Linked DNA regions of Homo sapiens. The protein of the gene in region 4 purifies or fractionates together with the protein of the main gene of each other region. This does not show direct contact. Each region holds a gene or a part of one and is shown on either strand. Other genes may lie near its edges.

Region 1 (7,346 bases), on a different chromosome or scaffold from region 4:
CTACTAATAATACAAAAATTAGCTGGGTGTGGTGATGTGCGCCTGTAATTCCAGCTATTCGGGAGGCTGAGGCAAGAGAATCACTTGAACCCGGGAGGCGGAGGTTTCAATGAGCCAAGATTGCACCACTGCACTCCAGCCTGAGCGACAGAGTGAAACTGTGTCTCAAAATAAATAAATAAATAAATATGAAACGCTTCATGAATTTGCATGTCATCTTTGTGCAGGGCCACGTTAATCTTCTCTGTATCATTCCACTTCTAGTATACTGCTGCCAAAGCAAGCACGAAATATTATTTTGCAAAAGAATTAGAACCCAAGAGAATACATTTAACTTGACTGCGCAAACACAGTCTAGTGTTTAGCAGATCCCCGGGCCGCCTTTATAAACTTTGACTCCCCCATTTGTAACCAAGACTGCTCAGGCCGACTGACCTAAGAACACCATGGATCATGGTTACATTCATCCGCCCATCGATACTGGCCCCTGTGCCCACTCACCAGATCAGGAGGACCATGGCTGCTCTTTCCGGGAGAACCTGCAGAGAGTAAATTCTGACAACGCTTCACTGAAGGCGCCAGATAGCAGGAGAGCTTATTCTCAGCCTAACTCAGAACTGATGCCTGCTTGCCTGGCTTGCTGCTGGGAGCCGCAGGTTCCCTTCCCCAGCGAGGCAGTGGGGAGCAGGAAGTGTGTTCCAGTCCTTGAAGTCCACGTGGCAACTCCCAGGGCCTAGAGAGAGTCAACACTGGGGCACCCCAGCCTTCCCAGCCTCCCCATGGCACCCTCCCACTCTCCACTTCTTGTCCCGGCCTCTGCCTCTCCCTGCACAGTTGGCAGGTGAAATATCCACTTCTTTCTGGAGAAACTCCATATTTTATCTACCAAGAGGAACGTCACATAAAAACACCAGGGTCTGATGTCATTCATTTTTCCAGATTTGGGGGTTTAGTTGAAAATAACACCACTCACGGCCATTACCAGCCTAGTTCAAGAGCCCCATTGGCCCCTCCGGGTCCCCTTCCCCAGGGACTTCTCAGCATTTGGGGAGGACGAGACCCTCCTGTCTTATTCCTTGGTGCAGCCCAGAAAAGGGCGAGAGAGGAAGAAACACTCATCAGCCATCTCCTACGGTCCAGGTGTGTGTAAACACCAGCATTCAAATCTGGGCAGTGAGCCCGGAATCCTCTCTACACATGCATGAAACAGAAGGAGGCGTTCAGAGAAGCAAGACTGTGATCTAAGGCACAGAAGAGACGGGCAAGAGGAGGAGGAAAGTGAGCAGACAGGAGTGCACGGGTAATGTGGCTCGCCCAGAGCACCAAGTCATGAACGCCATCACTGCCTTCGACCCAGGTGAGGGGCCTTGTCCTTGCCTGCCCCCTCCCTACAGGGCCACTGGGATGAGCCCACAGCTCCTAGATGGCACCTCAGCCCCCCGGACCTCAGGAGTCCCTGCCCAGACCTCCCCAAACCTACTCCTAGGGCCCCTTCTTCCCGCAGGGTGGCCTGGGATGGCTGTGAGTGGCTGAGGACTGAAGTGTCCACAGGCATGTACTGGAGACCCATCTCGGCGTGGGACAGAATTGGAGGTGGGGAGAAAGGCGGGTGTTGAAAGTGAGGACTGCAGGCTGAGACCAGCCCCCGCACTTCCACGCCCTGATGCAAATCAACGAGGAGCCCAAGAAGTCTACCGATTTCTTTTTTATTTTATTTTATTTTATTTTTATTGAGACGCGGTCTCACTCTGTCACCCTGGCTGGAGTGCAGTGACATGATCACAGCTCACAGCAACCTCCACCTCCCAGGTTCAAGCAATCAATCCTCCCACCTCAGACTCTGGAGTAGCTGGGTACAGGCATGTACCACCATGCCTGGCTAATTTTTTAACTTTTTGTAGAGACAAGGGTCTCACTATAATGCCCAGGCTGGTCTCGAGGTCCTGGGCTCAAGCAATCCTGCCATGTCAGCTTTGGAAGTTTTGGGATTACAGGCGTGAACCACTGTGCCCGGCCTAGCCTGAGAATTCTAAACTGGAACCTGGCTTTCCAGATACCATGGTGTATTTTTTAAGGTAGGAGAAGAGAATGTGTCCTCTACGCTTTTTTAAGTTTGGTTTGCGGCTTGTGTGCATTTGGACACACCGCGTCACAAACAGCCTCGCCCAGGAGGAGTGAGGGCCACAGATCGGGAGGGTAGGGGGCCCAGAGCCTGGAGAGCCCCAGGCCGGGCTCACAGGTCAGGGTTTCACCTGCCGGCTCCCAGAAGGGAGTGGCCAACAGACACCAGGGAAGTCAGGGTTGGGATTCAAAGAGAGGCCAAGGCTGCAGAGAGACTGGGAGCCACTTTAGGAAAGAAACGTGAATTCAGGCTTTGCACAGCAGAACTGTCCCCATGTCCTGGGGAGGCCTTGGTTCATTCTGCGGGGAAATCCCTTGTGTCTTGCGGGGCCCCGCCTCTGATGAGAGGGAAGGGAGATAAGCTTTGCAGGGGGAAGGTTTCCTCCCGGTCTCCTCACTCTTCGAGCACTGAGTTTCTCCAGACAAAGCGCACTCCGCGGGCACCAATCCCTGCAGACAGCGCAGAGCGCACAGCGAGCAGGAGCCCAGAAACCAGCAGGTCGGCTTGTCCCTTGTCAAATCCAAGTGACAACGGACTTCCGGAAGCCACGCTGACACCTACTTTCTGGCTCGATCAGACCCCTGGACTTAAATTCCAGCCCAAGGGCTAGCACTGAAAGGGTGGCTATTTCAGCAAACGACCAAAGCTTCTAAAGTAGACACTTTCTTTTAAACCACTTGATGGCTGGATTTCTTAGAGAGAGAGACTAAAGCTGGAGGAAGGGTTCTTCCAGGGATGGCACAGGCCCTCCGCTCTCGGGCTCCCCACACTAGACTTCGGGCCGGCAGGATGGGTTAAGGTAGCACTCGTTGGAGTCAATAATTAAGCAATGGAAACAAACAGCCTAAATAAGGGTGTTGAGGACTCAGGAGAAGGTGGCTGATTAATCTCAGGCTCATAGTTTGAAATGGGAGCGCAGGGGCTGGGCTGTGGCCTCCTCATCTGCTCCCTGGGCGTGTGGCTGTGTAAAGAGGTGTGGGGACCCACAAGAAGGCCGAGGAGCAGCACTGGGGTGGAGAGAGCAGTGGGGAGGCGGGGACCCAAGGGTTAAAAAAAAAAATTCCTCAATTTGGAAACATTTGCAAAACTCCAGAAGAAAAACTTTTAAAAGTTCTCCACTCCCTTCCAAACGTACAAACATGCACACACACAATTAGGAATTTCCCAAAGTTTTCATCTGTCTAAAAAGAAAGTGCCAGTGCAAATTACAGAACATCGTCGCTTCCTCATGTGCGGCGTTTCTACGGGCCTGGGAGGGGACGCAGAGGCTACCCCGGTGGTCCCAGCCTGCAGCGTTCACGTGAGGAAACTTCCGCAAAAGCCCTGATGCATGCACATTCTGACTGCAGAGGCCAGAGCATCCCGCATTTTGGAGGCTGAAAGGCTCCCCTAGGATAACCTTTTCCGTTAACAGAGGAGTCCGCTGAAGCGCAGAGCTAACTGAAAACAGCTAGAATTAAAATCCAAGTCACCCGGCCGGCATCAGCAGTCATTCCTTTCCACCACACAAAACTGGCCAGGAAGACGGACTCTGGCGCGCCCTCCCAGGCCGAAGCGCATTTCTTCGCTAACGCGCGAGGAGTAGGCTGCATAGACCCGGCGCAGGAGGTGTTCATTTTCGGATCCAGCCCTGTAGTCACTTTAGCTAAACCCGGTTCCAAAGGGGTGGGAGTCGTCGGAGAGGAATGGCCTCTGTATCTCCGGAGACGGAAACACCAGGACGAAGAGGCCCTAAGAACGTGTGCCCGGGGTGCGACCGGGGGGTGGGGGGCAGGGGGCAGAGACCCTGAAAAGCTCCACCGCCGAACCCCAGGGCAGTGTCCCGGCTTGGCTGGACTGGGCGCGGGCGGCTGCAATGCTCCCGGGCGCGGCGCTGGGACCCCGCGGGCCACGTCGGCTCCGCTGCCCCGACGCCAGGGCCCGACTCGCGTCTCCCTCTGGCGGGGCACCACAAGGGGCAGCGAAACGGTGGTGGGGGCGGGCGCCGCGCTCCTTCCCGTCTCCTCCCCGCCAGCTCCGGGCCCGTCCTTTTCCGCCCGGCTCCCGGCAAGGGTCCCCCGACTGGCGCCCGCGCGTCCTCCCTCGGCTGCTGCAGGCCGGGCCGCGGCGTCGAGCGGGGGCGGCGGGGCGGGGCCCGCAGCCATTGGCGAGCGGCGGGGCGGGGGCGGGGGCGCGGAGGGTCGGCCCCGGGACGCGCGCAGCCGGCCCGCAGTTGCCGCTGTCGTCCGCAGAGCCAGTTCCTAGCGCAGAGCCGCGCCCGCCATGAGGGAGATCGTGCACATCCAGGCGGGCCAGTGCGGGAACCAGATCGGCACCAAGGTGGGCCTGGCGCGGTGCAGGGCCTCTCCGCGGGTCGGCTGCTGGCGGGCCCCGGGTCTCCCGGCGCGACCCCCGCCGGGGCGCGCACCCGCTGTGCGCCCCTGGGTCCTCGGAGCCCGGTGCGGACCCGCGAGGGCCGCAGGGAGGGAGCGCCCGGGGCGTGGCCGGCCGGGGACCTTCTACTCTTCGCTCCCCACCCCCATCCCAACTGGGAGCGGCTGCCGGCGGCTCAGGCGCGCCTGGAATTCGGCCGCCGGGGCGCCTGGGGTGGGCGCGGGTGGCGGCGTCCCGGGCTCTGGGTTCTGAGCGTCTGTCCCCCCGCCTTGCCCTGCCCAAGTTTTGGGAAGTGATCAGCGATGAGCACGGCATCGACCCGGCCGGAGGCTACGTGGGAGACTCGGCGCTGCAGCTGGAGAGAATCAACGTCTACTACAATGAGTCATCGTGTGAGTAGCAAGGCCGCCGCGCCCTGCCCGGCCGGGACCCGCGTGGACGCTCCGGCGCCGCCTCTTAGCGCGGCGAGTTTGCTTCGGGAAAAGTTCTCTCGGGGTGTAGCAGGATGCCCGGCCACTCCCTTCGCTCCTCCGGGGCGGGAAATCCGCCGTCAGTTTATTCAAACAGCTCGATTCAGCCTATCCTGAGGGTCTGAGCGCTTGAACGGGACCACCCGTTAGCGTTGTGAAATCAACGTAGCGGTTCCTGCCCAGCCTTCTCTGTCTAGCCGGGCGCGGTGGCTCAAGCCTCTAATCCCAGCGCTTTGGGAGGCCGAGACTGGAGGATCATTTGGGGCCAGGAGTTCAGGACCAGCCTGGGCAGCATAGGAGACCACCCCCCGCCCCCCTCCCGCCCCGATCTCTACAACAATTTTAAAATTAGCCGGGCTTGGTGGCCCACCCCTGTAGTACCAGTTAACTGAGGGCTTGAGCTCAGGAGGTCGAGGCTGCAGTGAGCTGTGATCGCGCCACTGCACTCCAGCCTGGGTGACAGAGCGAGACCCTGTTAGAATAAATTAGAGCGTTTCTCAAGGATCCTTGGGAAAAACAAAGCTTCCCCCCCCCCCCCCCCAGTTTAAAACGTATCTCTTATTGGGGATTCTTGGCTAAAAATTTGAGAAACGCTCTCTTAAGTGACTTTTCTGGTCCCTTGCAGACCTCTAAAAAGACTTTAACCTCCCTGGAAGCTGAAACTCCAGGCAGTTCTCAGCAACGAGTGGAGTTTTATTCATTTACGCAGCAATGACAAAAGGCTGGGAACATCAGGGCATGGAAGATGAAATTTCTAGAGGACACTAAGGATAGTTCCAGTATACACTGCACTTCATGTTAATCCCTCACCCAGCTTGGGTACATCCATTTTCGATCTTGGCGAGTGCACTGCAGGACAGGAGTTGAAGAGCAGGTCCTATCTGGAATCATATTAACCGTGTCCTCACCGGGAACAAGTTCTAGCCCAATTGGCATGAAATTTCCACACAAGAACACTCTGACTCAAAATGAGAGTGACTCTGGGGAAACAGCCAGTGGCGTGCTCCGGGTAACAAGGTTCTCAGACTGCACATGGGCACATGTATGTGTATGCATGGGGGAGGTGTCACAAAGCAGAGAATTTCATCCAAACCTGGCAATTTGCTGTAAATACCTAGTTTATTTCCATGGAGCTAAAGTTGTAAAACTTCCTAACAGGAAAGAGGTGTCAGGGTGAGCTGGAAAATACAGTAGGCAGGAAGTCAGGGGACTTGATTTCTCATCCTGCCTCTTCCTGGAACCTCCTCTGCCAGGTCATGCCTGGACTCGTTCCTCATTCCAGTGTTAAGGTTCTAGGATTTTTTTTCTTTCTTTTTTTTAAGAGACAGGGTTTCGGCCAGGCACGGTGGCTCACCCCTGTAATCCCAGCACTTTGGGAGGCCGAGGTGGGCAGATCACAAGGTCAGGAGATCGAGACCATCCTGGCTAACACGGTGAAACCCCATCTCTACTGAAAATACAAAAAAAATTAGCCGGGCGTGGTGGTGGGCACCTGTGGTCCCAGCTACTTGGGAGGCTGAGGCAGGAGAATGGCATGAACCCAGGAGGCGGAGCTTGCAGTGAGCCGAGATCACACCACTGCATTCCAGCCTGGGCAACAGAGCGAGACTCCATCGCAAAAAAAAAAAAAAAAAGACAAGGTCTCACTCTGGAGTACAGTGGCATAACCATGGCTCACTGCAGTCTTGACCTCCTGGGTTCAGATGATCCTGCCACCTCAGCTTCCAGAGTAGCTAGGACTAGAGGTGCACACTACCACACTTAGCTAATTTTCTTGGTTTTTTGTTTGTTTGTTTTTAGAAACAGGGTTTTGCTCTGTTGCCCAGGCTGGTCTTGAACTCCTGGGCTCAAGCGATCTGCCCACCTCAGCCTCCCAATGTGCTGAGATTACAGGGATGAGCCAGTGCGCCCAGCCAATTCTGTGATTCTAAGAAAGTTCCTGTACCCTTTCTGAAAAGACCCTGGTTGATCCATTCCAGGCAGCTAGAACTGGTGGGACTTGAAACGGGGAAGTCAATTACTTTAGAAACCTGAAAGTAACTCTTGTGGGTGGTTCTTTTCTCCTCCAGCTCAGAAATATGTGCCCAGGGCCGCCCTGGTGGACTTAGAGCCAGGCACCATGGACAGCGTGCGGTCTGGGCCTTTTGGGCAGCTTTTCCGGCCTGACAACTTCATCTTTGGTAGGTTCCATCTTTCTCACTTTCTTCTTCTTCTTTTATTTTTTTAAATCAAATATTTTATATGCCAGATTTAAAGCATCATGTGTCATAGAAAAAGTGTGAATGGAAATCAGTGGTTCCCAGCCCCACCCCTCCCATCCCTAGCTGGGTTCATCACAAGGAACAGTTTTTTTTAAATCTTGACTTTTTTGGTGGGAAGGA
Region 2 (7,536 bases), on a different chromosome or scaffold from region 4:
AGATCTAGATTCAAACTCCCGAGAAGGGTGGAGGGAAGTGCTCCAAGCAGAGCAGAGACTGAAGGCGGGAGAGCCTGGTGCACCGCGGACCTGCAGGGGGAAGGCATGAGAGCTCGGTGCACTGGGGACCTGCATGGGGAAGGCGGGAGAGCTCGGTGCACTGGGGACCTGCATGGGGAAGGCGTGAGAGCTCGGTGCACTGGGGACCTGCATGGGGAAGGCGGGAGAGCTCGGTGCACCTCGGACCTGCAGAGGGAAGGTGGGAGAGCTTGGTGCACCGCAGACCTGCAGGGGGAAGGCGGGAGAGCTTGGTGCACTGCAGACCTGCGGGGGGAAGGTGGGAGAGCTTGGTGCACTGCAGACCTGCGGGGGGTTCCATATTGGCAGAACAAGATTGGGTGGGCATGCCAAGAGGTGACAGCAGGGAGAAGCGGGGGCAGATTCAGGGCCTGCTGCTGCCCATGGGCAGAGGAGAGATGGTCAGGGGTACCCGACAGGTCTTTGGCTGTGGAGGTGGAATGAGGGGACTCGAGGCAGGGAAGCTGACAGGCTTGCCAAGAAACCAGATGAGTAGGGAACTGGTATTGACCCAGAGCCTGGGGCAAGCCTGGCCCTGTGAGTGGCAGTAGGGGCCTCAGGTGAGTGGGAGGTTCTGCCGCCCCCCTGGTTTCCACCTTACCTGGGCAGGAAGAGTGGCCCTGTGCAGACATAGACGTTTTGGTAGCTGCGGGTCAAGCTGCGGCTATATTTCTCCAGGTTGTTCCAGGCATTCTGGTTGAGGTGGGGCACCTGGTAGGAGAGATAGGGCTTAGCAGGACTGTGGCTGGGACCCTTCCTCCTCTATCAGAGGGCCGCCCCAGGTCCTGAGGGGATGGACAGGCTCAGAGATATCCAGTGAGACAAGCGGGGGGAAACTGAGGCTCAAGGAATGAAAGTCACTCCCTGAAACCCAGGGCTGATAGAGTGCTAGCCACCACCCTCTGTCCCTCCCACAGCCCAGGTGTCAAAGTCTTTTCTCAGCTCCCAAGAGTCGAATGAAGGAAGAGCCTGTCTCCACCTTTCAGAGAGGACTGAGGCCTGTCCCCAGCCCCACCCAGGGTCTCCTGGGAAGACCAGCCCTTCCAACTACCAACCCGTTCCTTTTCCCAGTCTGAGCCACAGGAAGAGCCTAGCGGGGAATGCCATGAATCGACCTCCATCCTGAGCTCTCCAGGCCTGGGACAATGGAAAGTGGATAGGGGGCTGTCTTCCCAGAAGGAAGCTGGGTCAGAGGTTGGTGCCCCATGGGCTCCACCCAGAGCCCCATGGCAGTCTCCATCCATTGGTGCCAGGACCTGCTGGGAACAGGCTGAGAGGGTGGTTGGCCCAGTGCACAGTGCCTGGCACTAACAACCTGATCGTGGGCCAGGTGTCTGCCTCGAAACTGCCTGAAGGCAGGCAGGGTAGGACAATGTCTGGAGGCTCACGGTTTTATAGACTAGGGGTCCCCAACCCCTGGGCTACAGACCGGTACCAGAACCGGGCCACACAGCAGGAGGTGAGCAGCAGGCGAGCAAGGGAAGCTTCATCTGTATTTACAGCCACCCCCCCATTGATCCCACAGCAGCCTGAGCTCCGCCTCCTGTCAGATCAGTGGCGGCTGGAGATTGTCATAGGAGCTGGAACCCTATGGTGAACTGCGCATGTGAGGAGGTTGCGCGCTTCTTTTGAAAACCTAATGCCTGATCTGTCGTTGTTGCCCATCACCTCCAGATAGGACTGTCTAGTTGCAGGAAAACAAGCTCAGGGCTCCCACGGATCCTACATTACTGTGAGTTGTATATTTCACTATATGTTACAATGTAATAATAATAGAAATAAAATGTACATAAATGTAACGCACTTGAATTATCCTGAAACCCGCCCTCACCCACCAAGCCGTGGAAAAACTGTCTTCCACGAAACCGCACCCTGGTGCCCAATAGGTTGGGCGCTGCGGTTCTACAACAGACAGCCTTCTTCTGCTGTGTGACACTGTGCCCGTCACTTTGCCTCTGTGAGCCTCAGCGCCTCATCACTACCGCAGGAGGAAGGTGAATAACGGTATTATCCCCATTTTTTTGACGAGGAAAGCGACGCTCAGGGAGGTGCCCAGGGTTCGCAGTTGAAGCTCAAGCCCTGGTCGGCCTGCAGACCCTGTGCCTGGAGCCCAGTGCTCCTCCCTCCCGCCACGGGATGTCACTGCGATGCCTGACCGGGGGCGCGTTGGGCAGCTGCCCCGTTCTGCAGAAGAACAAACCGAGGCCCCGCGAGGCCAGGCGCCGGCCCCGCATTCCGCGACCGGCCCGGGGCGCGGGCGCTACCTGGGGCGCGACGTTGCTCAGGTAGAACGTGTCGTCCATGGCCTTCTGGCTCCAGCGGTGGTTGGCGGCGGCGGCCAGGTGACCGCGGTCGAAGCCACTGCCGCGGTAGTCGGCGTTGGTGGCACGGTGGTACGCGTGCACCGAGTCGTCCTCGCGGAAGTCGCACTCGCGCCGGTCGCCGTCGCCGCGGAGACGCTCGGGTCGCAGCTGCTCCACCACCCAGAGCGCGCCGCGGGTGCGCGGGTCGTAGCACAGCACGTACGACTCGCGGCTCTTGAGCTGCGCCAGCCCCGGCAGCCCGTACTTGGCCAGCTCGCCCGGGCCGCGGGGTCCCCCGGGCACAGGGGGCAACTCGGCTGCCGCCGCCACGGGCAGCACGGGCAGCCGGCCCAGCAGTCCCGGCGCCGCCCGCGCGTCCTCCCGCCGCCGCCGCCAGCCCTCGACGACCGCACCCAGCCCCGCGCCCGACGCCAGGGTCAGGCCGGCCCGCAGCGCCCGCATGGCCGGGGAGCGACCTAGCGGCGGGCGACCCGCGAGGCTCTTAAAGGAGCCGCGTCGCGGGATCCAACGAGGGCACAGGGCTGCTGGGGCCGCGGACGATAGCGTGACCTCCCTTCCACTCACAAACACTGCCAAGGGCTTGGGCCTCGGAACCCAGAAGGGAGCAGCAGAGCCCAACCGGGTGTCCCCGGCGTCCTTTCTTTGCGCATTTAAGACGCCGGTATGAGGGGCGTGGCATCGTCGCCTCAGCTCGCGATTGGCCACCATCAGGCCTGGCTCCGCACCCGCCTCGCAGGCCCCCTGCTGGTCGTGGGGTGGGAGACACTCTCTCCTCTGCGCCTGCGCAGGGAGCTCCTGCTTAATACGCTCCGCGGAAGGGTCAAGCACTGTCGAAAGCTTTTACTGTCACTGCTTAGTCTCACCCTCTACACCGCTCGGAGAGTGAGCTCCTAGTTCGCAGAGCAGGCACAGGGCCCCAGGTATATCTGGCCCTAGGCTATCCTCCATGACACCATAAAATAAGCCCCGCAATTCTACCAGATTGGCAAAGGTTTCTTTTTTTTTTTTTTTTTTTTTGAGACGGAGTTTCGCTCTGGTCGCCCAGACTCGAGTGCAATGGCGTGATCTCGGCTCACTGCAACCTCCGCCTCACAGGTTCAAGCGATTCTCCTGCTTCAGCCTCCCAAGTAGCTGGGATTACAGGCATGCGCCACCACGCCCGGCTAATTTTGTATCTTTAGTAGAGACAGGGTTTCTCCATGTTGGTCAGGCTGGTCTCAAACTCCCGACCTCAGGCGATCCGCCGGCCTCGGCCTCCCAAAGTGTTGGCATTACAGGCGTGAGCCACCGCGCCCGGCCCAGATTGGCAAAGATTTTAATTAACAGCAGTTTGAGGACAAGGATGCAGACGGCTGATGCTGGCTGCTGGCTGGAACAGAAACCTGGGGCGAATATTCCAAAAAACAGCTTGACAGTACAGTACAAGCGAAGCCTTAAAAAGGTTCATACCGTTCAACCCACGCAGAGGGCTGAGCTGGGGAAATCTCGGGAATGCAAGGATCTCGAACGCAAATATTCACCAGAGTATTACACTGCCGGCAGGAATAAGCAAAATATTCAGAAATATGGACTGGTTAAGGACTTTTATTTTTTGAGACGGAGTCTCACTCTATTGCCCAGGCTGGAGTGCAATGGCGTGATCTCCGCGCAGTGGAACCTCTGCCTCCCAGGTTCAAGTGATTCTCCTGCCTCAGCCTCTGAAGTAGCTGGGATTACAGGCGCGCACCACCAGGCCCAGCTAATTTTTTTTTTTTTTTGAGACGGAGTCTCGCTCTGTCGCCCAGGCTCACTGCAACCTCCGCCTCCTTGGTTCAAGCGATTCTCGTGCCTCGGCCTCCTGAGTAGCTGGGACTACAGGCGCGCGCCACCACGCCCAGCTAATTTTTGTACTTTTAGTAAAGAATGGGTTTCACCATGTTGGCCAGGCTGGTCTCGAACTAACTCCTGACCTTGTGATCCACCCACCTTGGCCTCCCAAAGTGCTGGGGTTATAGACATGGGCCACCCAACCCAGCCACTCTTAGCATTTTTTTTTCCTTTAAGGAAAATAAGGTCTTGTGCTGTCACCCACACGGAGTGCAGTGGCAAGATCACAGTTCACTGCAGCCTTGACCTCCTGGGCTCAAGCCATCCTCCTGCCTCACCCTCCCGAGTAGCTAGGACCACAGACACATATCATGATGCCTGGCTAACTTTTAAATTTTTTATAGAGATGGGGCCTCGCTATGTTGTCCAGGCTGGTCTTGAACTCCTGGCCTCCAGTGATCCTCCTGCCTTGGCCTCCCAAAGTTACAGGCATGAGCCACTAAGCCCTCCTGAGGTCAGTAGTTTGAGACCAGCCTGGCCAACATGGCGAAACCCTGTCTCTACTAAAAATACAAAAATTAGCTGGGCATAGTGGACCGTGCCTGTAATCCCACCTACTGGGGGACTGAGGCAAGAGGATTGCTTGAACCTGGAGGGCGGAGGTTGCAGTGAGCCGAGATCATGCCACTGCACTCCAGCCTGGGCAACAGAGTGAGACTCTGCTTCAAAAAAAAATATGGGACAGGGTCTTGCTTTGTTGCCCAGGCTGTTCTTGACCTCCTGGGATCAAGTGATCTGTGGGCCTCAGCCTCCTGAGTAAATGGGACTACAGGCTATGGTGTATCACCATACCCAGCTACTTTCAGCAATTTTGAAATATACATTAACTATAGTGACCATGCTGTAGTTTGTGTTTTTTTTTTTTGGAGACAGAGTTTTGCTCTTGTTGCCCAGGCTGGGGTGCAATGGCGTGATCTCGGCTCACCACAACCTCTGCCTCCCAGGTTCAAGTGATTCTCCTGCCTCAGCCTCCCGAGTAGCTGGGATTACAGGCATGTGTCACCATCCCCAGCTAATTTTTTGTATTTTTAGTAGAGACAGGGTTTCTCCATGCTGGTCAGGCTGGTCTCGAACTCCCGACCTCAGATGATCCACCCACCTCAGTCTCCCAAAGTGCTGGGATTACAGGTGTGAGCCATCGCACCTGGCCATACCATGCTATAGTTCTAAAAAAAAAACATTCCTGGGCCGGGTATGGTGGCTTAGGCCTGTAATCATAGCCCTTTTGGAGGCCAAGGTGGGAGGATTGCTTGAACCAAGGAGTTCAAGACCAGCCTGGGCAACATAGTAAGACCCCCGTCTCAAATTAAAAAAAAAAAAATCCTCCTGTCTAGCTGAAACTGTACCCTTTGACCAACATTTCCCCATTCCCCACCGCCCCAACTCCCACCAATCCCCAGACTCTGGTACCATCATTCTACTCTCCACCTCTATGAGTTGTTTTACATTCCGAATATAAGTGAAACCATGTCGTGTTTGTCTTTCTGTGCCTGGCTTATTTCACCTACCGTAACGTCCTCTAGGTTCTTCCATGTTGTCACAAATGACAGAATCTCCTTTTTTTTTTGAGGGTGAATCTCGCACTGTTGCCTGGGCTGGAGTGCAATGGCACAATCTTGGCTCACTGCAACCTCCCCCTCCCAGGTTGACGCAATTCTCTTGCCTCAGCCTCCTGAGTAGCTGGGATTACAGGTGCACACCACCACGCTCGGCTAATTTTGTTGTATTTTTAGTAGAGATGGGGTTTCACTATGTTGGCCAGACTGGTCTTGAACTCCTGACCTCGTGATCCACCTGCCTCAGCCTCCCAAAGTGCTGGGATTACAGGCGTTAGCCACCACGCCCGGCCTTGTCTTTTTTTTATAAGCCATTCTGACAGGTGTGAGGTGGTATCTCATTTTGGTTTTAATTTGCATTTCCCAGATGATCCATGCATTGTTCAGCATTTTTTCAGATAGTTGCCAGAAATTTTTATGTCTTTTTTTATTTTTTTTTGAGACAGAGTCTGGCTCTGTCACCAGGCTGGAGTGCAGTGGCTCGATCTCGGCTCACTGCAACCTCCGCCTCCTGGGTTCAAGCACACACCACTATGCCCATCTAATTTTTGTATTTTTAGTAGAGACGGGGTTTCACCATGTTGGCCAGGATGGTCTTGATCTCTTCACCTGGCGATTCGCCTGCCTCAGCCTCCCAAAGTGCTGTATGTCTTCTTTTGAGAAATATCTATTCAGGTCCTTTGCGTGTTGTTTAAATCACATTGTTTTCTTGCTATTGAGATTTTTGTTTGTTTCTGTTTTTGTTTTTTAGACAGAGTCCTGCTCTGTCACCCAGGCTGGAGTGCAGTGGCACGATCTCGGCTCACTGCAACCTCCGCCTCTGGGTTCAAGTGATTCTTGTGCCTCAGCCTCCTGGGTAGCTGGGATTACAGGCACCCACCACCACTCCTGGCTAATATTTTTGTAGTTTTAGTAGAGACTGGGTTTCACCATATTGGCCAGGCTGGTCTTGAACTCCGGACCTCAGGTGATCCACCCGCCTCCGCCTCCCAAAGTGCTTGAATTACAGGCATGAGCCACCATGCCCAGCTGCTACTGAGATGTTTTAAGTACTTATATATCTTGGATATTAACCCCTTATCAGATGTATGGTTTGCAAATATAATCATGCATCACATAAAGATATGTAATCCAAGCTACCCTGGGATGCTGAGGCATGAGAATTCCTTGTACCCCGGAGGCTGAGGTTGCAGTGAGCTGAGATCGTGCCACTGCACTCCAGCCTGGGCGACAGAGCGAGACTCTATCTCAAAAAAAAAAACAAACCAAAAAAAGTATGCCAGGCTAGGTGGCTCACACCTGTAATCCCAGCACTTTGGGAGGCCGAGGCAGGTGGATCACAATGTCAGGAGTTCAAGACCAGCCTGGCCAACACGGTGAAACACTGTGTATACTAAAAATACAAAAATTAGCCGGGTGTGGTGGCACACACCTGTATTCCCAGCTACTGGGGAGGCTGAGGCAGGAGAATTGCTTGAACCCGGGAGGCAGAGGTTGCAGTGAGCCGAGGTAGTGTCACTGCACTCAAGCCTGGGTGACAGAGAGAAACTCTTGTCTCAAAAAAAAAAGTAATAATAATAAAAAATAAAGAATGATACACCTGTCTGTATAAAGCGCTTACCATGAATGGAGCTTCTGGGACAGGAAGTTGCTCTGCGTGGGTCACTGAGGAGTGAATGTGAAGGCCCAGAACAAAGTCTACTCTACGCTAC
Region 3 (7,370 bases), on a different chromosome or scaffold from region 4:
TGACTGAGACAGTCTGCCCAGACCTAACCACGTACTTATGGAATAGCTACTACTAGAGTGAGGCTGGCCTACTGCTGATCCTGATGACAAAGATAGACCCAGCAGAGATCTTGCAAAAAAAAGGTATCTAAACACAAAGAACAGTAATTTGTGATTTAAAAGTGATTAAGACAGGTTCGCTGGCTCACGCCAGTAATCCCAGCACTTAGGGAGGCCAAAGCAGGTGGATCACTTGAGATCAGGAGTTCGGGACCAGCCTGACCAACATGGAGAAACCCCGTCTCTTCTAAAAATACAAAATTAGCCTGGCGTGGTGGTGCATGCCTGTAATCCCAGCTACTTGGGAGGCTGAGGCAGGAAAATCGCTTGAATCAGGGAGGCGCAGGTTGAGGTGAGCTGAGATCGCGCCACTGCACTCCAGCCTGGGCGACAAGAGGGAAACTCTGTCTCAAAAAAAAAAAAAAGTGATTAAAAAAAAAAAGGGAACTAAGTGCTTTGTGCTTTGGGAGGCTCAGAGTAGAAGGAGATACCTAGCTTGGGGAATGGAAAACCATGAAAGGCTTTGTAGGATAGGTAAGAGTTACGAAAAAGGGATCAGAGGTGGGACAATGGGATAGATGCAGCTTCAGGAAGATGAAACTGCTTGGACAAAGGCATGAAGACAGGAAAGCATGGGATATGTACCGGTGAAATAGACCAAGACCAAGTGATAAGCCCAGGTCACAAAGCCATCAACGAATGATAAAATAAAGTCTTAAAACCTAGATTTCTTCACCAGGACCAGAGGACCTCTTTTTTTTTTTTTTTGAGACGGAGTCTTGCTCTGTCACCCAGGCTGGAGTGCAGTGGTGCCATCTCGGCTCACTGCAAGCTCCGCCGCCCGGGTTCACGCCATTCTCCTGCCTCAGCCTGCCGAGTAGCTGGGACTATAGGCGTCCACCAACACGCTCGGCTAATTTTTTTGTATTTTTTTAGTAGAGACGGGGTTTCACTGTGTTAGCCAGGATGGTCTAGGATCTCCTGACCTCGTGATCCGCCCGCACCCGGCCAGGACCTCTTTTTAAATTAGGCCACAGTCCTATCTGAGAATAAGCTACATTCAATTTTCTTCCCAGATTAAAACTGCTTCAACGAATAGGAAGGTGAAGGCTGCCAGCACACAGAACTCAGTCAAGGCTGTTTATTGCAGCACTGCGAGCGACAAGTTGGAAACAATGTTTGTCAGCGAGCAAATGGTTGAATAAACTTGCTAACACAATCTGGAATATTATGCAGCTCCTAAAAATGAGTTAAACTGCCATTTATTGGATACACTTTGGATGTTCTGTTAAGAAATGCAACTTACAGAGAAATACACAAAACAGGATCCTATTTTTGTAAAGACAAACTAGAAATCCTGTGTACTTATTAATATCTTAGATCTGTGGAAAGAAGTGGAGTGGAAGCCTCCATTACAGTCTTGCCATGGGGGTGGAGAGCGATGACCATTTTATATTTTTACTCTTGTGAATTTAAAAAGCTAAGAATTTAAATAAAAACTGAGTGTACTGTTGTGAAGCCCACCTTCCTCTCCAGTTGTTCTGCCTGGGGGTGTGACAGCCACCAGCCTTTCTGCAGGTCAGCTCTTCACAGACCCCTTTCCGAAGCACAGCCAACACAAAGTGTGGCCAGGAATGTGCAACAGGACCCACACCCGGGGCCATCTCGTTCTGCAGAGGGAAACTGAGTCTCAGAAAGCCTAGTTACTCTGAGAGCTATGACTACCAGTCAGTTCTCCTGCCTTTCCCTAGTTGAGCATCTTTCCACAAAACTACCATTCTAGAGACAGAAATGATGCTGACTTGGTGGTCACTTTCCTGGCAATTAATTCCAATACAAAACCACCAATTACTTGACCAAAGTCTTTTTACTCAAGTATTCCACGTGGGTCGTTGCTCTTGGCTCCTGTGTTGTTAAGATATAATTTATTAAGCTAGCACTTACCCCTTAATCACCTAGACTGAAAGTGATCTTCACCTCACCTGCCTGCTCTCCTTCAGGAAAGAACTACATCTCACTGCCCAGCTTTTGGCCAATTTGGCCCTCAGTGGCTTCTCTAATCAATAACTTGGTTCTAGGCACTTCCTCCAGCAAGTACTTGCCATACTAACTTCTAAAGTAGAACTTTCAAAAAGCAGAAGGGGCAGATTTGAGGGGAAAAAAAAAAAGGGGCACTGTCTCGTGGCCCTCAGGCCCGAAATGTGCCCTTGTCTAAACAAACTCTTCGCCCAGCAGCAGCACAGGTTCGACTGCTCTTTTGACCTCAGACGCTGGAGAAGGCGGAGTGAAGGAATTCGAGGTCGAGTGGAAAAAGCCCGTGAACGGGCAACACGCACCTTGCGACACGAAGTTTCCCGAGCACCGCTGTGGCCCCGGCCTCGAGCTGCGGCACGGAAATGAGTAACCACAGCTCCTGCCCAGGGCACACCCGGCCCGGCTCGGCCTCGCTGCGTGACCTTGGACAAAGCTCGAGCTTCTTTGGTCGCTTCTTCAACCGCACAAGTTGCGGCTGCCTCTGCGCCCGTGAGCGCCGAGACCGTGAATGCGCGCGAGGCGTCGCCGCAGGCCCTGGACCACACGCGCACGTGGGCCACCGTACCTTCCGAGCCAAACGCCCCCCGCGCTGCGGTCCTCTCCTCCTGACACGGCGCCCGCCCGCTCCACGCTTCCCAAGCCCTGAGCTGGCAGCCTGGCAGCAGAGCAGGCCCCAGCGGGGCGGTCCGCGTCCCGCGGCGGGGAACCGCGAGCCCGGAGATGCCCAGCTCCGGGGCCGAGGCCGGGAAGGAGGCCCCGGGGCCGGGAAAGGCCCCCATCGGAGCGGGAGGTCGCGCTGCCACCTCCACCCAGGGAGACCAAGTGCCCCTTACCTGAGAGACAACGCCAAAGCAGGAAGACTGCGCCGCGCCAACCTCACGCACTGAGCCGCCATGACTGCCACTGCCCGTCGCAGTCGCCGCGCACGCACCAAGCGTGCGTGCAGGCAGCTATACCCACTTTTCTGCCCTACTACTTCGCCTCAGCCAATCCGTAATCGCTTTTCCTGTTATGGACAGGCAATAGTCACCAATAATTGTGGGTCACGGAAGAGCATCTTTCCCCACCCCCCGGTGGGCGGGGCCTGAGGCGTACCGGAGGCCCTGAAGAGGTGAAAGGTGAAGTGAGCATTGGGAGGAGCCTCCTGTGGGCGTGGCGATGCCGGGAGGAGCCAATGAGGAGGCAGCGTGAGGGGGCGGGGCCAGCGCCGGGGTGGGGCGCGCGCGTCGCGGGCCGGGAGGGACTTCAGAGCCTGGTTTTGGGTAGGAGTGAGGCGGCAGCTTGTCGTTTCCCGGCCCGCACCCGCCCTTGCGCTGACACCGCGGGCCTTCCTTTGCTCTGGGAACGAGCGTGGGGAGCCCTGTTCACCCTCACACCCCGGCTCCAGAGCGGCGCGGAGCACTCCATGTTTGCTAAATGAAAATGAAGTCTCGGCGCGAGCGCCACCCAAACGGCGGCGTAGTTGCTTGAGAACCGCGGAGGCAACCGCTTGGGAGGGCGCCCCGACCCCGAAGCTGCTTCTCCAGGCGCCCGAGGCGGAGAGAAGGCACTGGGGTCTCCGTCTCCACCAGTGATTTCTGGTGAAACAGGAAACAAAACCCGGGAAACAAATGGGACGAAATGTTGGCGGTTTTGATGCTGGATGATGGGAATATGGGCGTGTGTTTTGTACCTTTCTGTTATCTTCAGTTTTCTCAAAACACGAAAAACAGACTAAGAACAGCGCATAGAAAACATTGGGGCACAACTAAAGCTCATAAATGCACACGTTTTCATAACCTGACCGAGGTCCATGCTGCTGTAGCGCATACCCCCAAGAACAGAGGGCCGCGTGTTCTTATGGCCCCGGTGCCGGCCCCCAAGCGGGGTTCCCGCAGGAGATAGGGCCTGGCTCCCGCTTCAGCACCGCGTGGCCTGGAGTGCAGTTCTGGCGGCCAAGATCTGAGGGCTGTAGCCCGTGCCCTCACCAGGATCCCAGACTTAGAGTCCCTGCCCTCCCCGGGATCCCAGGGCTCGATCCTGTGCCCTCCCCGGGATCCCAGGGCTGGAGCCCATGCCCTCCCCAGGATCCCAGGGCGCGAGCTGGTGGCTTCTCAAGCGGAGTTTTGCCTGCTTGTTACATTAGTGAATGTAGGACCACTTGAGTAAAGGACCAAACCTTTATTCTTTTGCTTTTCTGCCATTGAAACCATTCAACCCATGCTGATTAATACCTACTGTTTGCCAGGTAATATGCCCCTTGCAGAAAGACGCAAACAGCTAAACCCCAAATGGGATGTTGTACAGGACAAATGACCGTGTCAATTAATACCAATAATTAAGATAATAGTATAATTATGATGATAATATAATTAATTCGAGCCTGGAGGAAACAAAAGAAAGTGGAACTGAACTATTAGAGAATAAATGAGCTTAAAAGACGTCATTGAATGGAATGTGTGGAACTTACTTGGATCATGATAGAATAAACTAGCTTAAACGGGGCATTTGAGAGATAGGTGGGGGAAATTGGAATATAAAGCTGGGTATTAGATGAAAACTGGGAGTATCGATACTTTTGGTAGGGAGCAGTAACGGCTGGTGGGTAAAATGTCCTAACCTTTAGAGATGCAAACGGAAGTATTTACAGCAAATTGCCCCTATGTCTGGTATTCGCTTTGTAAATTCTCCATGAAAAAAAATTCAAGGACAGGTGAAACACAAGTGGCAAATGTTAGTAACGGTTGAAGCTGGGTGATGAATGCCATAGGAGTTATGACGATTTTCTTTTGCATATGTTTGTAGTTTTCTGCGATAAAATTTATTTTATTTTATATATATATTTTGAGACAGAGTCTCATTCTGTTGCCCAGGCTGGAGTGCAGTGGCGCGATCTCAGCTCACTGCAAACTCTGCCTCCCGGTTCAAGCGATTCTCATGCCTCAGCCTCCCTAGTAGCTGGTATTAGAGGTGTGTGCCACCATGCTTGGCTAATTTTTCGTCTTTTTAGTAGAGACGGGGTTTCACCATGTTACCCAGGCTGGTCTCGAACTGCTGAGTTCAAGCAGTCCGGCCTCCTCAGCCTCCCAAAGTGCTAGGATTAGAGGCGTGAGCCACCACACCCAGCCTTTCTGCAATAAAATTTAAAAGTGTCTCGGCCGGGCACAGTGGCTCATGCCTGTAATCCCAGCACTTTGGGAGGCCGAGGCGGGTCGATCATCTGAGGTCAGGAATTCGAGACCAGCCTGGCCAACATGGTGAAAACCCGTCTGTACTAAAAAAATACAAAAAAAGAAAAAAATTACCTGGGCATGGTGGCGGGCACCTGTAATCCCAGCTACTCGGGAGGCTGAGGCAGGAGAATCGCTTGAACCCGGGAGGCAGAGGTTGCAGTGAGCCGAGATGGTACCACTGCACTCCAGCCTGGGCAATAGGGCAAGACTCCGTCTCAAAAAACAAACAAAAACAAAACAAAACAAAACAAAACAGTATCTCATGTTTCTTATTGGCTGTGACCAAGTAACTTCATTGCTTTCAACCTTGGATCTGCTCACCTGTAGAACTGAGACATTATTTGTTGTGAGATTTAAAAAAGAAACATGTTCATTTCCTTCCTTTGGGGCTCGGAAGGAATCAGATGGGCGTCTTGCAGCTCCGATCCTGATGAAGAATTGTAGCTGCTGTGCCTCAAGACAGATAAGCACAGGTCGTCCCAGAGGGGATGCCACCTTGGGGACTGTGAACCTCCGCTGAGGCCAGGCCATGCCCTGCCCTGTGTCTGTATCTGGAACTGCGGGATTTCTCTGATCTGCCAGGGAAAGGCCTGCCACCTCGTGGCCACTTCAGGAACTGCTCCAAAGGCAGTCTGCTCTTGGGAACCTACCTGGTCAGGTAGCTCCTTGAGGTCTGGAACTGCACCACAGTGCAAGTTATCTTCACGTGGAGGTGAAGCTGCCTGTATGGAAGACTCTTGGATCAGTCGTCTGAGCACATGTCCAGCAATGGGCATGGGTGGGCTAGCCAGGGACTGGGGGTGCCGGAAGAGCCGACTGTACAGCACGTGGTGCCCCTAACAAGGATTGAGTGGTGTTTTTAAAAAGAAAAAAAGGTCGTGCAGATGGTCTGACAGTCTGTCGACCGTGGGCGCGGTGCTCATAGCAGCTGAGCACTGCCGGGGTACCAGGCTGTGTGCTGGGTGCTTCAAAGATGTCCTCTTGTGGATCAGCCCATCTGTGGCGAGGAGGGGACCGGGCTCAGCCAGGTTAGGTGACTTGCACAAGGTCATGTGGGTGAAAGGAAGGCAGAACTCTTGTGTATTTCTCCTGACCCCAGATTCTGCGTCAAGGCTGAAGCCAGAACCCACACGTGTCCAGCGCAGGGTGATTGCTGCCATGAGCTGCATTGCTGTGATCCTCTGGCGAGGGCGTGGATTTTCATCCTTTTATTCAATTTTGAAAGAAGCAAATTTAGAAAGATACGATATGATGGGTGTGGCAGACAGAATTCTAAAGGTGGGCCCACTGATTCGTACCCCTGGCTGTTCAGTTAAACACTAGCCTAGGTGCTGCTGTGCAGGGACTTTGACGAAGGAATGAAAGTCCCAAGCCATCTGACCTTGAGATCAGAGATTATCTGGTGGGCTTGACCTCATGAGCCTAATGAAAGCAGGGAGCTTTTCCAGCTGTCAGCAGAAAAGAAGGTCAAATTCAATGTGTGAGAAAGGCTGGAATTAACATTGCTGGTTTGAAGGAGGAAGGGGTTGTGTGAGAAGGTGTGTGAGTGACTTATAGGAGCAGAGAGTGGCCCCCAGCCATGGAATGAGGACCCCAGGTCTGCAGGCACCAGGAGCTGGACTTTCAGGGCCACCTGAATGCACCCAGAAGCGGATTCTCCTCCAGAGCCTCCAGGTAAGAGTTCATTCCAGCCACCACCTTGATTTAGACCTTGTAAGACCTGGAGTGCAGAACCCAGTTTAATTCACTTCAGCCATATAATAACCCTGTGGGGCAGGCATTACTTTTTTTCTCCCCATTTTATCTTTATTTTGGACTTTGGTAGTCAAGTTTATTTATCATAAACCTTTGGTTCCCATTCTCACCCTTGTGCCTGCCTTATTCTTGGTCTGCTTCTGTTTGTTTAGTTGCTATAATCAACATCCCTGGACCCATCGCGCAGAAGAAACTAAGGTTCCCAGGTTAAGAGACTTGCCTGGAAAAGGGTTAACTGACAGCTTGGCAGCAGAGCCACCGCTCCTTCCCCCTTGCATGCTGGTTCCAAACCGAAAATGATGTTCTGGGTAAGAAAAAACAGCAGCATAA
Region 4 (7,028 bases):
GGAAACAAGAGGAATTCATGGCACACCCAATACATGTTGTGATACAGCTCACTTCCCTGACATCTAGTCTGTGTATCTCACGATTAGCACCCAGACAGCATTTCCAGCCCGTGTGGAGCACCAGCTCTGCGCAGCCTCACCTTTTTCAACATGTACCTCGATAATCTTCTTCTCACGGATCACCTTGGCCCCGCTGCAGCTCTCGCAGCGGTCCTTGGGGTTGATGCGCTCACCCTGGCCCTTGCACTCGATGCACACGGTCTGGATCTGCTGTACCATGCCCGGCCCGATCTGCTGGATGTGGATCTGCATCCCCCGCCCCTTGCACAGCGGGCACTTCTCCACCGATCCCTTCTTCCCACCAACACCTGCAGGGTCAGGGGAGGCAGGAATGAGGGCCATGCTCTTCCCTTACCAGTGTCCCTGCTGGGCGCCATGGCAGAAGGGTAGGGAACCCTCACATTGGACAATGGGCTTAGAATTCTATTTACAATAATAAAAAACAATGCAGAAGAGTCTGGAGGAGTCCAGCCAAGCAGACAACATCCAGATGTTAACATCTGACCTCAAACGTTTGTGATTTTGGCTGCACCAATCCAAATTTATTACTTTAGCTTCATCAAATGTGTTTTCTTCCACCCCAGGTGGAACTCGCATAGGCCCACAGATGAATGAGGAGGCTGGGGCTGTGGCGATCTAGACAACACAAGCTCTGTCAATAGTGGCAGCTACCCAGCTCAGCCAATTCTCTCTGTGGGACAATGTGAGGCTGGGGTCACCAGACATGGCTTTTCTTGAAAACTCAGGTTTTTTAAAAATTACAATAATTATATATACATTTAAGTCAGGGGTCAAGAAACCATGGCCAGACTGCTTGGTTTTGTAAATAAAGCTTTACTGGAACATAGGCATGTCCATTCATTTATGTACTATGACGGCAGAGTGAACTAGCTACAAAAGACTCCATGGCCTGGAAAGCCTAAAATCTGGCTCTTTACAGAAAAAGTCTGCCAACCCCTAGATGAGGTCAAGTGTCTGATTTTTAATTTTTAAAAATAATTGTCTGTATACATATGTAACAAACCTGCACGTTGTGCACATGCACCCTAAAACTTAGAGTATAATAAAAATAAAAAATACAAAAACATAAAAAGAAATAATTGTCAACATGTCAAATAGAGGTGCAGCCCAAAGAAAACATTCATTCAGGCAAAGAAGTGTGGCCCTCAGGCCACCTGTTTGTAATCTCTGCTTGACCCTTGCATTTGAAAAAAGATAACTTATTTTCCCTGAACTATAAAACAAGCATTGTTTCTGAATCTAAGGGATCAGAACTGTGCGGTTCAGTCAAAAATTAATTTTTACCTTCACATTTCTCACAAATTACATTTTTCTGGAGGGCCAATTTCTTCGTGACTCCATTATATAGATCTTCAAGAGTTACAGATAACTGGTGTACAACATTCTTGCCTTAGCAAGGGAGAAAAAAAATTAGTGGCGTTGAATGAAATATACCATTGTATTAAATACCACCCATATGACCCTTAGTTGTATGAAGTCTCCAGAGACTCAAGACTGTGGCTGGGTCATGCGCTCCCTTCCCTGCAGGAAGCAATGCTTCTATTACCCCAGCCCATCCTTCTGGCCCTCAGCCAATAACAAGAGCTAATACCCTCTCTAGCTATGAGCTAATTATTCAATCATTTATAGAGGCCAACAAAAAGACTTTCCACCTTTATTTTCTGAGAACAAATCTGAGGACAAGGAGAGTACTAATTGAGAAACCAAAGGCAGTATTAACCCACGAAATTGGTTAAGTTTCCCCATGAAAGGAGTCCTTTCTATACATAAATGTTTGGCAGCCAAAGTCTCTGGATCTTTCACTTCCTTGGGCATAAAGCACTTTACTTTCTGAGCCCTTCTGTAACCGGTGGCCAAATGGGAATTCTTTCCTCTGCCAAAATCTTGCTTCTGCAACTCAGGACAGTGGGTGTTCAGTCCACAGGGTGGGGGTGTGCTCCAGCACCTGCCAGCCTGTCAAGACTGACAGCATCAAGACCCTCCCTGCTGCCCGTGGAGCTCCTGCAGTCACTGAGATGAGCTGTCCTGGTTTACTGGCTGCCAACTTTGAGAGATGACTTAATTAAGGGCATGAAGTTTTTCATCTCAAGACAGTGAGGGAGCTGGACAAGAGAATACCCAAGGTTTTTTTTGTTTTGTTTTGTTTTTGAGACAGAGTCTTGCTCTGTCCCCAGGCTGGAGTGCAGTGGTGCGATCTTGGCTCACTGCAAGCTCCGCCTCCTGGGTTCACGCCATTCTCCTGCCTCAGCCTCCCGAGTAGCTGGGACTACAGGCGCCTGCCACCGCGCCCACCTAAGTTTTTGTATTTTTTAGTAGAGACGGGGTTTCACCATGTTAGCCAGGATGGTCTCGATCTCCTGACCTCGTGATCCACCCACCTCGGCCTCCCAAAGTACCCAAGGTTTTATCATGTCCACACCATCAATTATAGGAGCAGGCGATATGCTCAAAGGACAGAGGAAGGATTTTTCCCTAATAAACACTTTGTGATTTTCAGCACTCTATGTTCACAGAATTGACACCCAAGCTTTTTCAAGCTCAAAGTCAATTACAATGTGATAACAAGTGCAGCTTCATTTATCTAGGGGCCTCTCACTGACCAAAGCCACACTTCTTAAACCCCAAGGCAGAGCTCATTTCTTCTGACTTTATCCAGAATTGTAATACGCTTGGTTATCTTTCTGGTTTCAAGATCCAAAGCAGCCTGACAACAGTAAACTAAACAGGGGGAATGGGAACTAGTCTATTAGCAACTACTAACAACAGAGGTGACAGCCCGTAGCCTGGCAGAGGTGAGATGCAGAAAAATTAGGAAGAACAAATCCCGAGAAAGTCAAAACAGTGGCCTGGGGCCATTGAGCTAAGGGCTAAGAAGTTCCTCATTCACCTCCTGGGGATGAAGTTGCTACTACTCATAATGCATTCTGAAAAGAAAGGCAGGTCATTTATAAAGATTTCAAAACATAAAGAGATGAATTTTGTTGCCTAGAAAATCCCCTGAGCAGGCTGGGAAATGAGGCCATACTGAACATGGCAAGAGTACCCACCTAGAATTAGAGAGCCTGCAGCCCACGCCCAGGTCAGGGAACATGGAGGGCCACAAAGGGAGGGTGGGCAAGAGGAGAGAGGAACACTCTCGGTAAAGGATCACTGACAACCACAGGCGGCGTCATCTACATCCCTCAGCACACTCTGGTGCCTGACCCCAACAACAGAGGAAAAGAAGGCACGATGAACTTCACCTTCCTCTTTTCTATCCACCACTCCATTCGCTACTTCATATGGTATTGGAGGGTGTCAGATAATTACTAAATTTACCAAGAGTTTCCAGGTAGCCTGAGCACTAGACAAGTGATAAACTCTTTAAAGTTAATGATCTCAAAACATGGCAATTGTACCTGGTGGGGTTTTTTGTTTGTTTGTTTGTTTGTTTGAGACAGGGTCTCACCCTGCCGTGCAGGCTGGAGAGCTCACTGCAGCCTCGACTTCCTGGGCTCAAGTTTTCCTCCAGCCTCAGCATCTCAAGAAGTAGCGGAGACTACAGGCATGAGTCACCATGCCTGGCTAAGTTTTTTATTTTTATTTTTTTTGAGATGGGGAGTATCACTATGTTGCCCCGGTTGGTCTTGAAATCCTGGCCTAAAACAATTCTCCCACCTTGGCCTCCCAAAGTGCTGAAATTACAGACATGAACCACCGCGCCTGGCCCAATCATATCCTTTTAAAGCATGATCTATCCTGATTCCAACAACACGTATAATTGTGGAAACCATACAACTTATTTATGTTTCTTTAAAAGCATTTACCTCTTCTCTCTCTAGCCATCCGTCCACCACCACCAAAGAACATGTCAAAGATGTCCATGGGTGAAGAGAAGCTGGGGCTGCCTGAGCCTCCTTCTTTAATTGCCTGCTCTCCGCCTTGGTCATAAACATCCCTTTTCTTTGGATCTGAAAGCACTTCATATGCCTGGGATATGAGTTTAAACTTTAAAAGAGAGAGAGAGAGAGATTTTTAGAGAAGTTTCAGTTGTTTTGTTAAGCAAACCTGCCATATAAACATACAAAGTAATAGAGGTATTCTGCCCCCAAACCCTTGAACTAGCCAGTCTATACATCCTCTACCTGGAATCTGACTTGCCTGTCTACCTACTCCTTTGGTAAAGTGGGAAACACAGGGCAAACATATTAAGGGACTGGTGGTAGGGACACGATAAGAATAAGGGAGAGAAGCCAGTAGAGAGGGAAAGTTTCTCACTAATCCGGCTGCACCAGACAGGAAGTCGAGACCAGCTAGGATACCATGAGACAGTGCCAGGGGTGAACCTCTAACCAGATAGAGCCAGGACTCTGGGCATTACCACTGGCTCACCTCCTCATGGGAATCATTTCACTAGTTTACTAGAATGAAATTCAACTACAGGCATCTGTGAGCATCTAACCACGTGCCAGACATTGGATACAAACCTATACTCCTGATCCTCCCCCAAAAGCCCCGCCCCACCCATAGTCTTCCCCATATCACAGTTATTGGCAATGCCAATCTCACCTGTCAACAAATCCCACTGATGCTACCTTCACATTTGCATCTCCAGTACCCTAAGACAGACACAATATCCCATGTGTAGCATTCCTGCCAAAAAGTTACCACTGGAACCCAATTGTACGAAAAGAATCAGAAAACCCAAATTGAGAGATACTCTAAAATTAAAAGATAGAAAAAAACGAATACAATGTGTGATCCTGGATCAGATCCTGCACAGGGGAGAAAAAAAAAAATGGCTACAAAGGACATTATTGGAACAATGGGAGAAATGTGAATCTTTGTTCCCAATGTTAAACTTCTTGAATTTGATAACTTTACTATGGTTATGTACAAGGATGTCCTTGTGCCCAAGAGAAACACGCAGCACTTAGGGCTGAAAGGTTATGCTATAGGTAGCTTCCTCCCAAAATCTTTAGCCAACAGTAATAATAATAATAGATAAAACAAATGTGACAACTTATTTATAACTGGTAAAGCTAGGTGAAGAATACATAGGTGTTCATTGTATCACTCATGTTTTCTGCAGGTATATGGACATTTTTAAAATAAAATCAGAATGCGAAAACATGCAAGATCTGTTCCTTCTTACCACACCACATCCACTCTGGCTGAAGGCACCATCTCAGGCCTGGACCACTGCAGTGGCCTCCTCCGTGGTCTTCCATGTGCCCTCCTCACCCCAGCTTTCAGTGTGTTCTCCACTCGAGCCCACTAATTGGGTCGATCCTCTGCTCAAACCTCTACAAGGTGGCCCACGTCACTGGGAGTAAAAGCCAGTCCTAACTTTCATCTATAAGCCCAACTTGGCACCTGTACTTTCCTCTCCTCCTGTGTGTCCCCACCCCAATTCTATGCCAGTTTCAGCAGGCTCCCTGCTGTTCCTCAACTCTGCAGTCTGGGCCTCAGAGGCACCTCAGCCTGGTGCGGCCTCCCGACTCATCTCTTTCCAGCCTTAGCTCACAGACCACCTTCTCAGGGATGCCTCCTGGTGATCCAGCTTTAACACTGCAAACCCACCTCAGACCCTCCCAGCCCCCACAACTGCTGCATATTTCTCCATATCATGAACCACCTTCTAACAAGCTGCATCATCTACTGCTTATGCTGTAGCCCCCACTGCAACATAAGCTCCATGAAGATGGGGGGTTTTGTCCACTGCTGTCTAACTGAGCCTGGAACCATGCCTGGCATGTAGAAGGCACTTGGTAAATACCTGTTAGATGAATGGCTCGATTCTGGGAACTCAGAAATAAATAAATGAGGTAGGATCTTGGCCCTCCAGAGGCTACAGTTTAGTCGGAGAGACAAATATGGATATATAGATAAACAGATCCTATAATGCAGCTGGCTCCAAAAAATATTCAGGGAAAAAAAGTGCCATGAAATAAGGAATTTGAGAGAGAGAACAAGGGAATTTGAGGCATTAATTCCCTTGTTCTACAGATCCCTGATTGAAATCTAATAAGTAACCAATAATAATAGCTAATAAATAGCTAAAAAACTACAATTTAGAAAAGTCTTAAAAAGACATCAGCATCATATATAAGGCAGCTAGATCTTTTGATATGTTAATTCTCATACCATTTCTGCGAAGAAGTAAGTACCATTCACTACTATCCCTTTCCTCAGCAGAAAACATGAGGTAGAGTGTAAGGATTGGGTGCCTGGTACAGATCAGAAAGCAACTAGGCCAGGCTGCCCCTAGACAGTTTCTGCGTCTATCTGCAGGTCAGGACTAGGTAAATAACTTCATGGGAACGTCCACCGGAAACACTCACCAAATACCCTGGATACTCACATGTCATTTAGACTTAATAGAATGATCTAAGAATGGAAAAGGAGTACCCAGTTGCTTGGGACATTCAGTCAGAGGCCAGATCTCACATGGGATGGGGGTTCCAACTACCAGTAGGGAGTCCATCCTCTAGGGTCCCAGCACTCCAAAGTCTAATTCAGCTCCCGGCCCGGACCCCCTTCTCCCAGTGGGAGACGAGTGCTATGATGAGCTTGCCTTTCAGACCATGATCATTTGCCACAGAACCTTAACAGGATTACTATACAGCTGAGGGGAAAATGGCTTTGAAGACTACGTAACAACTTGGGAAAAGTACTTATAATAAAATATTAAGTGGAAACAAGAAAACAAAATGTCTATGTATCAGGATGGCCATGTATGATCATACTGGGGAAAGCTTGGAAAGAAGCACAGAGTGGTTAGGATAATGTGTACTTGGTAGGTTTCCCTCTGTGTTCTAAAATTTTCTGCATGGTTTGCTATGTTCTGATTTTTGAACTTGAAAGTCTATTATTCAAACTAAAAGTTACAATGAAATTGACCAAAAGACCAAACTCATCTCAACAGGGTAATAGCCAAGAATATACCCCACATCATTGCCCCTAAA

The links.
Region 1: the proteins of DNAJA4 (region 4) and TUBB6 purify together in Homo sapiens (affinity purification with mass spectrometry; 2 studies listed by BioGRID and IntAct, with this or other methods). This does not show direct contact.
Region 2: the proteins of DNAJA4 (region 4) and ENDOG purify together in Homo sapiens (affinity purification with mass spectrometry; 2 studies listed by BioGRID and IntAct, with this or other methods). This does not show direct contact.
Region 3: the proteins of DNAJA4 (region 4) and GRPEL1 purify together in Homo sapiens (affinity purification with mass spectrometry; 2 studies listed by BioGRID, with this or other methods). This does not show direct contact.

What each region holds. Positions count from the first base shown.
Region 1 is NC_000018.10:12,303,909-12,311,254, forward strand, and holds the start of TUBB6 (tubulin beta-6 chain), read left to right. Parts: upstream 1-4,332; 5' UTR 4,333-4,384; coding exon 4,385-4,441; intron 4,442-4,778; coding exon 4,779-4,887; intron 4,888-7,034; coding exon 7,035-7,145; intron 7,146-7,346. UniProt on the Homo sapiens protein: Tubulin is the major constituent of microtubules, a cylinder consisting of laterally associated linear protofilaments composed of alpha- and beta-tubulin heterodimers.
Region 2 is NC_000009.12:128,813,992-128,821,527, reverse strand, and holds the start of ENDOG (endonuclease G, mitochondrial precursor), read right to left. Parts: upstream 3,029-7,536; 5' UTR 2,844-3,028; coding exon 2,343-2,843; intron 1,878-2,342; exon of another isoform or gene 790-1,877; coding exon 680-789; exon of another isoform or gene 1-679. UniProt on the Homo sapiens protein: Endonuclease that preferentially catalyzes the cleavage of double-stranded 5-hydroxymethylcytosine (5hmC)-modified DNA.
Region 3 is NC_000004.12:7,065,065-7,072,434, forward strand, and holds the start of GRPEL1 (grpE protein homolog 1, mitochondrial precursor), read right to left. Parts: upstream 3,001-7,370; 5' UTR 2,969-3,000; coding exon 2,907-2,968; intron 1,563-2,906; exon of another isoform or gene 1,116-1,562; intron 124-1,115; exon of another isoform or gene 1-123. UniProt on the Homo sapiens protein: Essential component of the PAM complex, a complex required for the translocation of transit peptide-containing proteins from the inner membrane into the mitochondrial matrix in an ATP-dependent manner.
Region 4 is NC_000015.10:78,267,537-78,274,564, reverse strand, and holds part of DNAJA4 (dnaJ homolog subfamily A member 4), read right to left. Parts: exon of another isoform or gene 4,630-7,028; intron 4,069-4,629; coding exon 3,888-4,068; intron 1,471-3,887; coding exon 1,366-1,470; intron 908-1,365; exon of another isoform or gene 369-907; coding exon 141-368; exon of another isoform or gene 1-140.